Linked DNA regions of Homo sapiens: region 1 is linked to region 2. Evidence: fine-mapped expression QTL. Tissue or cell type: adrenal gland. Region 2 holds a variant in brackets; the other region holds the start of a gene. All regions are shown on one strand. Distances are from middle to middle.

What was found. PIP is the estimated chance that this variant, and not a neighbour inherited with it, causes the effect.
Region 1: UPF3B starts here. The variant in region 2 is fine-mapped to the expression of UPF3B in adrenal gland (GTEx, PIP 0.98). The same link has a PIP of 0.9 or more in skeletal muscle.

Annotation. Positions count from the first base shown.
Region 1 is chrX:119,849,588-119,857,692 of GRCh38, reverse strand. It overlaps UPF3B (UPF3B regulator of nonsense mediated mRNA decay), which reads left to right and starts at 4,730. Exons shown (of 11, transcript NM_080632.3): 1 at 4,730-4,920; 2 at 5,820-5,926; 3 at 6,092-6,198. The coding sequence starts at 4,765. RefSeq lists an enhancer at 4,696-4,755.
Region 2 is chrX:119,748,130-119,756,234 of GRCh38, reverse strand. No RefSeq gene overlaps it. Among named protein-coding and RNA genes, the nearest start is that of SOWAHD, 6.4 kb to the left of the region's middle. RefSeq lists enhancers at 1-53, 64-123. The variant G/A (reference allele first, on the strand shown) is at 4,392.

The DNA.
Region 1 (8,105 bases), 100 kb before region 2:
CTACTAAAGTTGAGCATATGCTTACTCTGTGATCCAGCAATTCCACTCCTAGGTATGTATCTGACATGAATCATCAAACAATATGCACTAAAATCCCAGCAGCACTATTTGTATTAGCCCCTAAGAGTGGGATAAATTGCAGCAGACTCATACAATGGAATATTATGTAACAGTGAAAAGGAATAATCCACAGCTACATATAACATAAATAAGCTGGGCGTGGTGGCTCAAGCCTGTAATCCCAGCACTTTGGGAGGCCGAGGCGGGCGGATCACGAGGTCAGGAGTTCAAGACCAGCTTGGCCAATGTTAGAAACAAAATGCTTGTTCCTCGGTGCCACAAAGAAATAGCACTCGAACATAAATTTAATTTTCACAGCAAGACAATTTTTACTTCTATAGAAGGGTGCGACTCGTGAATGGAGTAATGGCAAGAGCACACCTGAACAAGGGAGGGGAAGGGGTTCTTATTCCTGACACAGGTAGCCCCTACTGCTGTGTCGCTCCCCTATTGGCTAGGGTTGGACTGCACAGTCTAAGCTAATTCTGATTGGCTACTTTAAAGAGACCAGGGGTATGAGCCAGAGTGGCGGGGTGAATAGTTTGGTGGGAAGGACGGTTAGGAACAGGTAACTAAAGGTGACTTAGGTCAGAGCAGGGACCAGGGGTGACTCAGGTCAAAGCGGATGACCGGGGTGAGTCAGGACGGAGCAGGTAACCAGGGGAACAGATGTGAACTACTGATGAAAACTGGTGGAAAATGTTGTTTACTGAAACTACGAGGAAGTTAAACTTTACAATGGAGGACAAAGAACTGAACATACTGACATACTGATTCTTTGAAGAGAGATCTAGATCTCACTGTATCCAACAGCCAATATGGTGAAACCCCATTTCTACTAAAAATACAAAAATTAGCCGGGCGTGGTGGCACACGCCTGTACTCCCAGCTACTCGGGAGGCTGAGGCAGAAGAATCGCTTGAACCCGGGAGGTGGAGGTTGCAGTGAGCCAAGATGTAAGCCAAGATGGCGCCACTGCACCTCAGCCTGGGCGACAGAGCGAGATTCCGTCTCTAAATAAATAAATAAAGAAATCTCAGTCATAAATGTTGAGAGAAAGGAGCCTAACATAAAAGAATACATGCTGTATGATTCAATTTACATAAAGTTCAAAACAGACAAACTCAATAGTATTAGAAGTCATTCATAAAAGGATGTAGCTGCTAAAAAAGAAAAAGCAAAAAGGATAGTGGTATTCTTGGTGGCGAAAATGACTGGGAACAAGTAGGAAGAGAGCATCTGGAGTGCTGGCAATGTTTTGTTTCTTGATCTACATGCTGGTTACATAAGTGTGTTCACTTTGTGAAAATTCAGCAAGCTGGATGCTTACTTTTAGTGCACTTGTCTGTACATCTGTTATACTGCAATTAAAAGTTTCATCAAAAAGGAAGTCTACAGTATGTGTTAGGTAGAATAATATCTCCCCCAAAGTTGTACACATCCTAATCCCCAGAACCCATGACTGTGTTAGGTTATATAGCAAAAGGAAATTAATGTTGCTAATCAGCTGTCCTTAAAATAGGGAGATTATCCTGGATTTTACAGGCGGACACAATGTAAACACAGGAGTCCTTCAAAGTGAAAGGGGAAAGTGCAGAGGCCAGGAGTTGGAGACCAGCCTGGGCAACACAGTGAGACCCCTTCTCTACAAAAATGAAAATAAATTAGCTGGGCATGGTGGCATGCACCTGTAGTCCCAGCTATTTGGGAGGCTAAGGCAGGAGGATCACTTCAGCTCAGGAGTTTAAGCCTTCAGTGAACTGTGACCCTGAAAAAAAAACTTGGAATGGCAAGGCAGAGAATAAAAGAGATATAGACAATAGACAGAAGTAGGGGCAGGGTCAGAGAGAGATGCTTGAAGACGAAGGGTTCATAAGCCAAGGAATATGGGCCGCCTCAAGAATCTGAAAAAGACAAGGAAATCTATTATCTCCTAGAGCCTCCAGGAAGGAACTCAGTCCTGCCAACACCTTGATTTTAGCCCAGTGAGACCCATATTGGACTGTTTGTTTATTTATTATTACTATATTTTTTTGCCCCCTCACAGGACAAAGCTAAAACCTTGTTGGACTTTTAACCTACAGAACTGTAAGATAATACACTTGCATTATTTAAACCCACTAAATTTGTGGTAATGTTACAGCAGGAATAGGAGGCTAATACAGTTGGTGTGGGGGAAGATCAAGTGTTCAGTTTTGGATGCATTCGGTGGCTGAACACGTTAGACGTCTTAAGTGGAGATGTTCAATAGGCAGTTGGATACATGACTCTGGAAATCATCAGGGAGGTATGGGCTGGAGATGTAAATTCTTTTTTTGTTTTGTTTTGGTTTTGAGACGGAGTCTCGCTCTGTCGCCCAGACTGGAGTGCACTGGCACAATCTCGGCTCACTGCAACCTCGACCTCCTGGGTTCAAGCGAATCACCTGCCTCAGCCTCCTGAGTAGCTGGGATTATAGCTGCCTGCCACCACGCCCGGCTAATTTTTTTGTATTTTTAGTAGAGACGGGATGTCACATGTTGGCCAGGCTGGTCTCGAACTCCCGACCTCAGGTGATCCACCCGCCTCGGCCTCCCAAAGTGCTGAGATTACAGCTGTGAGCCACCACGCCCGGCCTGGACATGTAAATTCTAGAGTAGAGTTGTCAGCAAAGACAGAAAAGCCAAAAGAATGAATGAGATTAATAAAGGAGTGAGTGTACATAGAAAAGAGGTCTAAGGACTGAGCCCTGGGACACTTTATTCTGGCAACTGACAAACAGCTGGTGGTTTAAAGCTAGTGAGGACACCAAAACAGAGGCATACACTACCAACATGCAAGTGCAGAGCTAAGCAGTAGGTCAGAGGCAGATGCATAAACAAGGCTCATAAGAACGGCCAGGTACTGAAAGCAAGAGTAACAGATGTCAAATACAGGGAAACCGTTTTAGCCACAGGAATAGGAATCCAAGAATAGGCTGGACAATTGGAGTGAGAAAATTTAAGTGCAGAGTCAGGGGAATATATTCTAGAGGTCGGCAAAAATGGGAGTTGGCCCTTAGGCAGCTTTCTGCCTTGGGCTCCTATTGCATCTTTAATTTGGTTTCTGTCCTCTATGGGTGTCTGTGTCTCTCTCTCTTTTTGAGATGGAGTCTCACTCTGTCACCCAGGTTGGAGTGCGGTGGCACAACCTCGGCTCACTGCAACCTCCGCCTCCCAGGTTCAAGTGACTCTCCTGCCTCAGCCTCCCAAATAGCTGGGACTACAGGCGCCTGCCACCATGCCCAGATAATTTTTGTATTTTAGTAGAGACAGGGTTTCACCAAGTTGGCCAGGCTGGTGTCGAACTCCTGATCTCAGGTGATCCGCCGGCCTCGGCCTCTCAAAGTGCTGGGATTACAGGAATGTGCCACCACGCCCTGCTAATTTTTTTTGTTTTTAGTAGAGACAGGGTTTCGCCAAGTTAGCCAGGCTGGTCTCGAACTCCTGACCTCAGGTGATCCACCCACCTTGGCCTCCTAAAGTGCTGGGATTACAGGCGTGAGCCACCACGCCTGGCCGACTGATCTGCTTTCTATCACTGTGGTTTTATTTTTCTAAAATTTCATATAAATGGAATTGTACAACATGTACTCTGTGTCTAGATTCTGTCACTCAACATAATCACTGTTAGATTCACATTTGGATTGTTTCCAGTTTGGAGTTATTATAAATAATGTAAAATTGGCCCTTTTTAAGTGAAGATGGTGATCGCAACTAAATCAAGTTGGGTTTTATTTTTATTCCCCTCCCTGTGGGACATCAGTACCTGGGGAGAAGGATCCTTTTGCTAAAATAAGGTGATGAAAACAAATCTTGTATATTTTAGTCATATTACTCCTTTAAATATCAGTATCTTGTGTTTATTTATTATTATCCTTCTTTTTTATATACAGGGTCTCGCTCTGTCGCCCAAGCTGGAGTGCAGCGGCGCGATCATGGCTCACTGCAGCCTCGAATTCCTGGGCTCAAGATCCTCTCTTCTCAACCTTCCCGAGCAGCTGGGACTACAGGCGTGCGCCACTGAACTCGGCTAATATTGTAGTATTTACTAAGTATCTGTAAATCCTAATCAATATAAGGAAAATAAAGTTTTTTAAATGTTAGGCTTTTTCTTTTAGTTGTAGGAAAATAAATGCTAAAGCCTCTGAATTCAATGATAAAAAATACAAGTCGCTCCCCTAGTGAGGCAAAATTTGGACGGCATTGAGTTTATCTGATGGAAACTAAGCGTGAAGAACCTATCTTTCGACCTGGAAAACTCTGAAGATGAAAGGATTCGATTTACTCACAAACAGGGACCCTGAGATAGCTCTGGCCCCTGAACGCCCAACAAAAGCGGGTAGCTGCTTTGTATGCCGGGATTTGTAGTCCCCGACAGAGTCACTTCAAGATGGCGGAATTGCTAATGACGCGCGAAGGGGCGGGCCCCGAGGGAGTCTGGGCCGCGAGGGGATTGGGTGGCGCAGGAACTTGGCGGGCGGGAAGTAAAAACCAGGTGTTAAAACCTTTGCACTGGGAAAGGCCCAAGTCTCGCGAGAGCTTGGCAGGACCCAATGGAACGTGGGGCCCGACTTATCACAAGGGGCATTTGTTGGGGGCGGAGCTTTGACGGGAGCTTCCCGGGAGCCGTTTGTGCCCGGGGTAACCCCGTTCCGGCCAAGCCGCTTCAGCGGGGGACGTAGCCATGAAGGAAGAGAAGGAGCACAGGCCTAAGGAGAAGCGAGTAACCCTGTTAACCCCCGCCGGGGCCACAGGCAGCGGTGGTGGGACCTCGGGGGACAGCTCCAAGGGGGAAGATAAGCAGGATCGCAACAAGGAGAAGAAAGAAGCGCTGAGCAAGGTGCCCGGTCGGCCGCTGGCCCGGGAGAGGGCGGGACGAGTCCGCAGCGCGGGGAGGATGGCTGGGAATGGGGCTGCCCCCTTTCTTTCTCAGGTTCTCCTTCTATCTCTTCGCCTGAATGGAAGTCGCATCATCCTGGTTCATCCATTCACCCGAAATGGGGAGAGCCCCTCCCGGCCAAATCCTGGGTGGGGGTGAGGAAAAGAGGGGACTCCCCAAACGGGAAGGGTTTAGGTCAGAGCTGTGAGATGATAATGGGAGGGAAGAGCGACGGTATAAAGAATGAGGAACTAAAGGTGTAATTGGGGAGAAATATTAAATAGTGAAGGAGACATGAGGGATGGGAATATTATTCATGGAGGCGAGTTGGGGGAGAGTGCAGGGTGATTAATGGTACAGGAGGGTAGATCGAGAGCATCCTATTTTGAGAGCAATGGGTAGATTTTTTGTATTCGTTAGAGTTTTGAATTCTTAAGTTCAATGGGCAAGGATTTTGTTTTAAGATGTGTTGGACGTGGGAGAAACTTGTTGCTAAATCAAGATTTCGTGGCACCCACAAAGACCAGCGTTGGCTTACTAAGTTATTGCCACTAGATCTGTTAAAAAATGGGTGATCGAAAATGATGCACAAACCTGGTAAACTGCAGGGCTGCTGTAAAGAGCAAAACCTGCGATTTTTCCTTGCTCCAGGTGGTTCTCATTTCCAAGGGTTTTTTTAAACCGCGTTACTATTATGTTTGACTAATTCTGAGCATTGGGCTGCAGAAGAATATTTTCTCCTGGGTTTTTACAAGTGATCTCATATTTTAAAGCCCAGCCTTCTTCAGGAACTGTGATTCTTTCAGGTATGACAGAAAACTGATTTGTACTAATTTTATTTTCCTTATGCATTTCTTAAGGTGGTAATTCGAAGATTACCTCCCACTTTGACCAAGGAGCAGCTTCAGGAACATCTTCAACCTATGCCTGAGCATGATTATTTTGAGTTTTTTTCTAATGATACGAGGTAAAAAAAAAAAAAAAAGGAAAGGGGTAAATGAAAAAGGTTTCTTTCATTCTTTTTATCCTACTGTTTTTCATTTGATTTTTGAGCTTGTCTTTAATATATGCATACTTGTAATTGGGCCAGACACCTGCGAGTACATTTACATAATTGCTTTCCTCTCTGCAGTTTGTATCCTCATATGTATGCCAGAGCATACATCAACTTTAAAAACCAAGAGGACATTATTTTGTTCAGGGATCGCTTTGATGGTTATGTATTCCTTGACAATAAAGGTGAGTCCTGGTAACTGAAGTAAAAAGGGAATTTCTTTGTCATTTGTATGTTTAAGACAACTCGTGCATTGCGTTGCTTCCTAGAGTTTTACACATTTAATAAGCTTATTGCAGTCTTATAAATAGACGTGACTTTTCACAGTCCTTGGTTATTTTTATTAACCTACTATTTTTTTAGTTTGATCAACTGAGTGAAATTGCAACTGTTTTCTCCTCGTGTGACACATTTTTTGCCCTGGCTTAAACCTGCTGTTTTGACTGTAGAATTTCAGCCGCAGTACTGATAAGTGACTCTTAAACTTGTTTGATAAGTTTTAAATATTTACTTCTTATTTTGCTTCGAGGACAAACATTTATTTAATTCAAATCCATTAAGCCAACAGTTCCCAATTGGGATACTGTTTAACATTCTCACAAAGTTGTATATAATTAAAACATGAAACTTGATACATCTCGGCCTGGTGTGGTGGCTCACGCCTGTTATCCCAGCACTTTGGGATGCCGAGGCAGGTGGATCACGAGGTCAGGAGATCGAGACCAGCCTGGCCAACGTGGTGAAACCCCATCTCTACTAAAAATGCTAAAAAAATTAGCCAGGCGTGGCGGTCCACGCCTGTAATCCCAGCTACTTGGGAGGCTGAGGCAGAAGAATCGCTTGAACCTGGGAGGCAGAGGTTGCAGTGAGCTGAGATCACGCCACTGCACTCCAGCCTGGCGACAGAGCGAGACTCTGTCTCAAAATCGAAAAAAAGAAACTTGATACATCTCTTACTTTATATCCAGAAAGGTCCAGTCTATAGGGAAGACACATTTCTACTTTAACACTCTATTATCTGCTACCTACATTTAGCCAGAGAATATCTAAGCTGCCATTTGCCACTTTTCTTTTTGGTTTGCAATTATAGGTAAATAGTGTGTCTTCTTGTTTTGTTTTGTTTTTTTCAATATTACTTCAAAGTTGGTAAAAATTAAATTTTTGTCAGGGACTATGCCAGTAAAAATTGAAGGATTGCCACTGTTTGTCCAACTTTTATTAATCTCCCCAAGCCAGCTATTTTTCCACTCCAACTATTTTATTCCAGTAGATATTTAACTAGATTCTAGTTACTTAGCCTGGAAATCTGAGTTGTGTTTAATTTTTTCCTTTTTTAAAAATCTCTTACATGTAAGTTATGAATCTTGTCAATTTATTGTTTATCTTTTGAGATAGGGTCTCCACCCAGGCTGGAGTGCTGTGGCGCAATCAGAGCTCACTGCAGCCTGGAATTCCTGGACTCAAGCAATCCTCCCACCTCAGCCTCCTGAGTAGCTGGGACTACAGATGTATGTCACCATGCCTGGCTAATTTTCTTTAAATTTTTTATAGAGATGGGGTCTCACTACGTTGCCCAGGCTGGTCTTGAACTCCTGGGCTCAAGTGATTTCCCCCCCCCCACCTCAGCCTCCCAAAGTGCTGGGATTACAGGTGCGAGCCACCATACCCAGCTCAACACCACTTATTAAAGAGACTATCCTTTCCTCATTGTGTTTTTTGTTTGTTTGTTTGTTTTGTTTTGTTTTTAAATCTTAGAGACAAGGTCTGCTTATGTTGCCCAGGCTGGATTTTATTGTTTTTTTTTAATATCTTGTTCACCTAGCCTTAAACAGTCACACTTTATGTCCTCATCACTTAATGCCTAGACAACCACTGTCTCTAAACTTACAGGATTTTCCATTTTTTTCATTCTTGTATAATTCAGTCTATTATATTGCCATGAAATTAATCTTTTTGAAAATAATGATTTAAATTAACAGTTGGGGGAAAAAGTCCAAACTCCTTAGCCTGGTAGTCAGGGTCCTCCATATTCTGGCCTCACTTCTGTTTCTTCAGCCTGTCTTCCACAATTTCCCTCTGTTTCAGTCTGGTT
Region 2 (8,105 bases):
AGGATGGAAGAATGCTTGGACTATTAATTTTCGTCACCACTAAGCAGGCAACTCTCTTCCCTATCAGCATGAATAATATCTGTTTCCAGTTCAAAGATTGCAAAGGCAGCCGCCTGACCAGTGCCACAGACCCATGATACATGTGCCCTTGCTTAACTCTGCTGCTAGAGACCAAAGCCACGGTGCCTCCCTAGCAACTTGTTTCATCTTTAATTAGCAAGTGCTTTCTACCCTAGGTCACCAGCTGCACACACCACTCCCCAGAACCGCAACACCCATCTCTATTTTAGTAGAGAGGGTCTCAGGAATTTGATAGCAGGGAGTAGGGCAGAGGGAGTGGAAAACAGAAGGGATAGTACCCACCCACCTAAAATTAACATGCCAGTTATCTGAAACATCTGCTACCCCTCCAAGGGAGTGGGGCAAAAACCCCTCAAGCCCTGGGAAATGACTTCCCAAAAAGCTGGAGGTAGAGTAGATATTTGCATTGCAAATTGTAATAATACTGATGTCTTTTCCAAATAGCAGCCTCTCTAATATATTTGTGGGTTTATTTACTAGATCTTGGACTATTAGAACTAGAAGAGATCGGCTGGGCGCGGTGGCTCATGCCTGTAATCCCAATACTTTGGGAGGCCGAGGCAGGCTGATCACGAGGTCAGGAGATCGAGACCATCCTGGCTAACACGGTGAAACCCCGTCTCTACTAAAAAATACGAAAACTTAGCCGGCCGTGGTGGTGGGTAGTCCCAGCTACTCGGGAGGCTGAGGCAGGAGAATGGCGTGAACCCGGGAGGTGGAGCTTGCAGTGAGCTGAGATCACGCCACTGCACTGTAGTGTGGGTGACAGAGCGAGACTCCGTCTCAAAAAAAAAAAAAAAAAAAGAACTAGAAGAGATCTTAATGTTTCATTGGCCTTTATTTTCCAGATGAGGTTTAACTAACTCAGGGAGCATGGCAGAAGGCAGAGGAACAGAGAAGCTGATGTGTTAGGCGTACACTGAAAATCTATCTTGATGAAGAGAGCAGCTCAGAAATCTTAGGGGATGTCAGTAGGAAATCATAGTTGATCTGCAAAAATTTAATTTACATGAAACTTCTCAGAAACATGCTCCTTGGGCGAAGCCAAATGCTGGTGTATCCTTGGGCTCTCAATGGAGTTTGCCCCGGGGGCTTATGGATTCAGAAAAATCCATGAGTGCAAAACAGTTGAGAAGCAGATGTGTGGAATATGGGAAGTAAAGTCCCTCAGGCGTCCATAACCCTCGGTCATGGAGGGAATGGGGAACATTCTTTTTTTTTTCTTTCTTTCTTTTTTTTTGAGACGGAGTCCCATCTGTTGCCTAGGCTGGAGTGCAGTGTGGTGTGATCTCGGCTCACTGCAACCTCCGCCTCTCTGGTTCAAGTGATTCTCATGCCTCAGCCTCCTGAGTAGCTGGGATTACAGACGTGCACCACCATTCTCAGCTAAATTTTGTATTTTTAGTAGAGACGGGGTTTTACCATGTTGGCCAGGCTGGTCTCGAACTCCTGGCCCCAAGTGATCCACCCACCTTGGCCTCCCACCACACCCGGTGGTGTGAGCCACCACACACGGCTGGAACATTCTTGGGGTTCCAGATATAGAATGTAAATTTCCTTTCCTCCAAAGACCTGTGCTGATATCATCATGATTCTCAATGAGAAACCTATGAAAGAGAGAGAGCTCCTTTCTCTCTGTTTGCATGTGAATGTGTGTGCAAGAATGGATGTTTGAGTGGTATGTATGTGTACCAGACATCACTGTCTGGTTGTGTGTATAATGTGTATGTGTCTGTGTGTATGTACTCTGCCAAACATCACTTTCCCCTTCCCAAATGTCAGACCTTTACATGAGATCTCATTTTGGATCCCTTTTCCTTAGACTATGGAACAAGTCATATTTGGTAAACACTTTAAAAATTATTTCCTAGTACTTTGGAATTACCCCCACCTTCCCACCCCCCTCCCCCGCCAATCCTGCAGTAAGACCTGATGTATCCAGTTAAAAAAAGAACTTACAATCTTATTTTGAGAGCTTACTGAGCTTGGAAGAGTAGAAAGTGGTAGAACCAAGTTGACACCAGGGCTTCTAAAAATGACTAAGGAGAAAGGGGTGGGCAGGGAGCAGGAAGAAATCTGTAGGCCTGAGTGGAAGCAGGAAACCTGCCTAAACTCAAGCTGGAATGGCTTAATTGGAGCCTGAGAGTCAAGCATGGGCTTTGAAGTGTGACGAGAAAAAAATTTCCATTACACATTTTATTGATACTGAGATTAAAAGAATGCCACATCCTGTAAAAGACTTAAGGTATTACCATATGGAGACACATGAGGGCGCTCTGACCAACTAGCAACTGAGAAAAGTAGAAAGGCTGTGTCTGTTTCAACCTGTAGGCAACGAAAGAGGCATGGCAGGCCCTTTGTTTAATTTTTTTTTTTTTTAGGACAGGGTCTCGCTATGTTGCCCAGGCTGGTCTTGAACTCCTAGGGTCAAGCGATCCTCCCACCTCAGCCTCCCAAAGTGCTGGGATTACAGGCATGAGCTACCGCGCCCAGCAACAGGCCCTTTTGTTTTGTTTTGTTTTGTTTTGTTTTGAGACAGTCTCACTCTGTCACCCAGGCTGGAATGCAGTGGCACGATCTCGGCTCACTGCAACCTCTGCCTCCCAGGTTCAAGCGATTCTCTTGCCTCAGACTCCCGAGTAGCTGGGATTACAGGTGTGTACCACCACACCCAGCTAATTTTTGTATTTTTAGTAGAGATGTCATTCCCCTGTGTTGGCCAGGCTGGTCTTGAACTCCTGGCCTCAAGTGATCCACCCACCTCTGCCTCCCAAAGTGCTGGGGTTACAGGCGTGAGCTACTGCGCCCAGCAATAAGCCCTTTGTTTATATGAATTCAGGCTTCTACCCTGGAGCAGGTCATTGGCCCTTAAGTAGTTGCTGGGAAGAAGGTACTAGCCCTAGGGGTGAGGGGGCTGGCCTCATCTTGAAAGGAATGTGAACCATCAGGAGAGAGGGGGAGGCCAGTGAGCAGTACAAAGTGGTTCCTTCCTTACTTTATCAGTTGGCTTCTGTCATACGTAAGGCTTGGAATAATAAACTCTTAGTTTTCAGAGTGCTTTCATATTTTTAATTATCTCTTGACCCAGACAGCAAGCTTGTGAGATATGTAGAGAAGACAGTATTTATATGCAATTCACACACAAGGCTGAGGGAGGTTAAGTGGCCTGCCCAGGGTCACGCGTCTCGAAAGTGGTAGAGCAGGGTCCGTGCTCATGCCTCTGTTTGATGCTGCCATACTGTACATTTGGGTACGGCTGACAGGAACAGCTCTTAATAAAATTGTGCAGTGGGTAAATGTTGTCCTTGGCGCCTTCAGCCATCTATTTCTGACATCCAGGCATCCTGTACCCCAGATCACCTAACGTAGCACTCTGTAATAACAGTGATTACAGCTGCCTACTGTTCATTAAGCACTTAGGTGGCTGGTGACTTAGGTCCTGTGCCAAGCATTAAATATGCATTTTCATACATGAATGGTCACAGCAGAACTATTTACAATAGCCAAAAGGTAGAAACAATCCCGATATCCATAGTATATCCATACCATGGAATGTTATTTGGCCATACAAAGGAATGAAATAGGCCAGGCACAGTGGCTCACGCCTGTAATCCCAGCACTTTGGGAGGCTGAGTCGGGCAGATCACCTAAGATCAGGAGTTCGAGACCAGCCTGGCCAACATGGTAAAACCCTGTCTTTACTGAAAAAAGAAAATACAAAAATTGCCAGATGCAGTGGCTCACACCGGTAATCCCAGCACTTTGGGATGCCGAGGTGGGTGGATCACCTGAGGTCAGGAGTTTGAGACCAGCCTGACCAATATGGTAAAACACCATCTCTACTAAAACTACAAAAATTATCCGGGCATGGTGGTGCGTGCCTGCAGTCCCAGCTATGCTGGAGGCTGAGACAGGAGAATTGCTTGAACCTGGGAGGTGAAGGTTGCAGTGAGCCAAGATTGTGCCACTGCACTCCAGCCTGGGAGACAGAACGAGACTCCATCTCAAAAACAACAACAACAACAAACCCCAAAAATTAGCTGGGCGTGGTGGTGGGCGCCTGTAATCCCACTTACTTGGGAGGCTGAGTCATGAGAATCGCTTGAACCCTGGAGGCGGAGGTTGCAGTGAGCCAAGATTGCGCCACTGCCCTCCAGCCTGGGTGATAAAGCGAGACTCAGTCTCGGAAAAAAAAAAAAAAGGCCGGGCGCGGTGGCTCACGCCTGTAATCCCAGCACTTTGGGAGGCCAAGGAGGGCGGATCACGAGGTCAGGAGATCAAGACCATCCTGGCTAACACGGTGAAACCCC[G/A]TCTCTACTAAAAATACAAAAAATTAGCTGGGCATAGTGGCGGGCACCTGTAGTCCCAGCTACTCCGGAGGCTGAAGCAGGAGAATGGCGTGAACCGGGAAGGCGGAGCTTGCAGTGGGCCGAGATCGCGCCACTGCACGCCAGCCTGGGCGACAGAGCAAGACTCCGTCTCAAAAAAAATAAATAAATAAAAAATAAGGAACGAAATAACTGACACATGCTACAACATGGAGGAATGTGAAAAATACTATGCTAAGTGAAAGAACCAGACACAAAAGACTCTTCTGATTCCTACAGGAGATGTCCAGACGAGGCAAATCCATACAAACAGAAAGTAGGTCAGTGGTTGTCAAGGCAGGCATGAGGGAAGAGGGAGAATAGAGAATGATTGCTAATGGGTATGGGTTTCTTTGGGGGTGTTGAAAATATTCTGGAATTAGATAGTGGTGATGAGAGGTGACAGCGTGCTGGCAGTCCTCAGAGCCCTCGCTTGCTCTCGGCGCCTCCTCTGCTTGGGTTCCCACTTTGGCGGCACTTGAGGAGTCCTTCCGCCCGCCGCTGCACTGAGGGAGCCCCTTTCTGGGCTGGCCAAGACCAGAACCAGGTCCCTCAGCTTGCAGGGAGGTGTGGAGGGAGAGGCGCGAGCAGGAACCGGGGCTGCGCGCAGCGCTTGCGGGCCAGCTGGAGTTCTGGGTGGGCGTGGGCTTGGCGGGCCCCGCACTCGGAGCAGCCGGCCGGCCCTGCCGGCCCCGGGCAATGAGGGACTTAGCACCCAGGCCAGTGGCCAGTGGCTGTGGAGGGTGTACTGGGTCCCCCAGCAGTGCCGGCCCACCGGCGCTGTGCTGGATTTCTCGCTGGGCCTTAGCTGCCTTCCCGCGGGGCAGGGCTCGGGACCTGCAGCCCGCCATGCCTGAGCCTCCCACCCACTCCATGGGCTCCTGTGCGGCCCCAGCCTCCCCGACGAGCACCACCCCCTGCTCCACGGCGCCCAGTCCCATCGACCGCCCAAGGGCTGAGAAGTGCAAGCACACGGCACGGGACTGGCAGGCAGCTCCACCTGCGGCCCCAGTGCGGGATCCACTAGGTGAAGCCAGCTGGGCTCCTGAGTCTGGTGGGGAAGTGGAGAGTCTTTATGTCTAGCTGAGGGATTGTAAATACACTAATCAGCACCCTGTGTTTAGCTCAAGGTTTGTGAGTGCACCAATCGACACTCTGTATCTAGCTGCTCTGGTGGGGCCTTGGAGAACCTTTATGTCTAGCTCAGGGATTGTAAATACACCAATCGGCACTCTGTATCTAGCTCAAGGTTTGTAAACACACCAATCAGCACCCTGTGTTTAGCTCAAGGTTTTGAATGCACCAATCGACACTCTGTATCTAGCTGCTCTGGTGGGGCCTTGGAGAACCTGTGTGTCAAAACTCTGTATCTAACTAATCTGATGGGGACGTGGAGAACCTTTGTATCTAGCTCAGGGATTGTAAACGCACCAATCAGCGCCCTGACCAAACAGGCCACTGGGCTCTACCAATCAGCAGGATGTGGGTGGGGCCAGATAAGAGAATAAAAGCAGGCTGCCCGAAGCAGCATTGACAACCCGCTCCCGTCCCTTACCACACTGTGGAAGCTTTGTTCTTTCACTCTTTGCAATAAATCTTGCTAATGCTTACTCTTTAGGTCCACGCTGCTTTTATGAGCTGTAACACTTAACCGCCAAAATCTGCAGCTTCACGCCTGAGCCCAGTGAGACTACGAGCCCACTGGGAGGAATGAACAACTCCCCACGCGCTGCCGTAAGAGCTGTAACACTCACCGGGAAGGTCTGCAGCTTCACTCTTGAGCAAGTGAGACCACGAACCCACCAGAAGAAAAAAACTCCAAACACATCTGAACATCAGAAGGGACAGACTCCAGACGCGCCACCTTAAGAGCTGTAACACTCACCGCGAGGGTCCGCGGCTTCCTTCTTGAAGTCAGTGAGACCAAAAACCCACCAATTCCAGACACGGTGATGGTTGCACAGCCTTGTGAATATACTAAAAAGCACTGAAATATACACTTTAAAGTGGTGAGTTGCTGGGCGCAGTGGCTCATGGCTGTAATCCAAGCACGGTGGGAGGCCGAGGTGGGCAGATCACCTGAGCTCAGGAGTTCAAGACCAGCCTGGCCAACTTGATGAAACCCCATCTCTACTAAAAATACAAAATTAGCCGGGCTTGGTGGTGCATGCCTGTAATCCCAGCTGCGCAGGAGGCTGAGGCAGGAAAATCGCTTGAACCTGGGAAGTGGAAGTTGCAGTGAGCCGAGATCACACCATTACACCCCAGCCTGCCCAACGAAAGCTAAACTTCGTTTAAAAAAAAAAGTGAATTGTATGGTATGTGAATTATAGCTCAGTAAAGCTGTTGCCATAAAGTGCATTATGTCCCTTAATCTTTACAACAACTCTAAGAGACTAATGAGAATCTGAGGCCCAATGAAGTTAATTGACCACGTTCACACAGCTAGTAATTGGCAGGAAACCCATCCAGCTTCAACTGATTCCAAGGCTCATACTTTTAACCATCATGTTACACTGGGTCTAATGCATCCCTCATTTACATAGAGGATGTTGTAAAAGCCAACACTCATTGAGGCCTTAATATGTGCCAAACACTATGCTAATCACATCACATTCATGATGCTTAACATTATGGTAGATATTAAAGCAATAATCTCCAATTTTTTTTTTTTTGAGATGGGAATCTGGCTGTGTCACCCAGGCTGGAGTGCAGTGGCACCATCATAGCTCACTGCAGCTTCTAACTCCTGGGCTCAAACCATCCTCCCACCTCAGCCTCCTGAGTAGCTGGGAGTACAGGCATGTGCCACCATGCCCAGCTAATTGTTTGTTTTTTGAGACAGAATTTCGCTCTTGTTGCCCAGGCTGGAGTGCCATGATGCCATCTTGGCTCACTGCAACCTCCACCTTCCGGGTTCAAGCGATTCTCCTGCCTCAGCCTCCCGAGTAGCTGGGATTACAGGTGCCCACCACCACGCCCAGCTAATTTTTTTGATTTTTAGTAGAGGCAGGGTTTCGCCATGTTGTCTCAAACTCCTGACCTCAGGAGATTCGCCTGCCTTGGCCTCCCAAAGTGCTGGGATTACAGGCGTGAGCCACTGCACCCAGTCCCAGCTAATTTTTTAAAAATTGTTTTAGAGATGGGATCTCACCATATTGCCAAGGCTGGTGTCCCAACGTTTTAAATTGCATGCCCCTATAATAAAAATATTTTGAGCAGATATTCTCAACATTCGTGAATATTTTGCAATTTCAAAATGATGTGTGTGTATTACTCTATGAAATATGTATATTATAAAGCATACACAAAAAGGAAATTTTAAAAGGATGAGACAAAGATAAAATATAGTTTAAAATAATTTACAGTTTTATAATGCTTGTAGTACAAAACTATTTGGATATTCATTAAAATTTTATTATTAATTTTTTCACAAGAGAATGTGATTGCATATGCTTCGTTTTTAAAACATCTTTTTTTTTTTCTTTTTTTGAGACAGGGTCTCACTCTGTTCCCCAGGCTGGAGTGCAGTGTTAAGAATACAGCTCACTGCAACCTCAACCTCCTGGGCTCAAGTGATCCTCACCCCCAGGCCCCCAAGTATCTGGGACTACAGGCGTGTGTCACCATGCCAGGCTAATTTTTGTATTTTTTGTA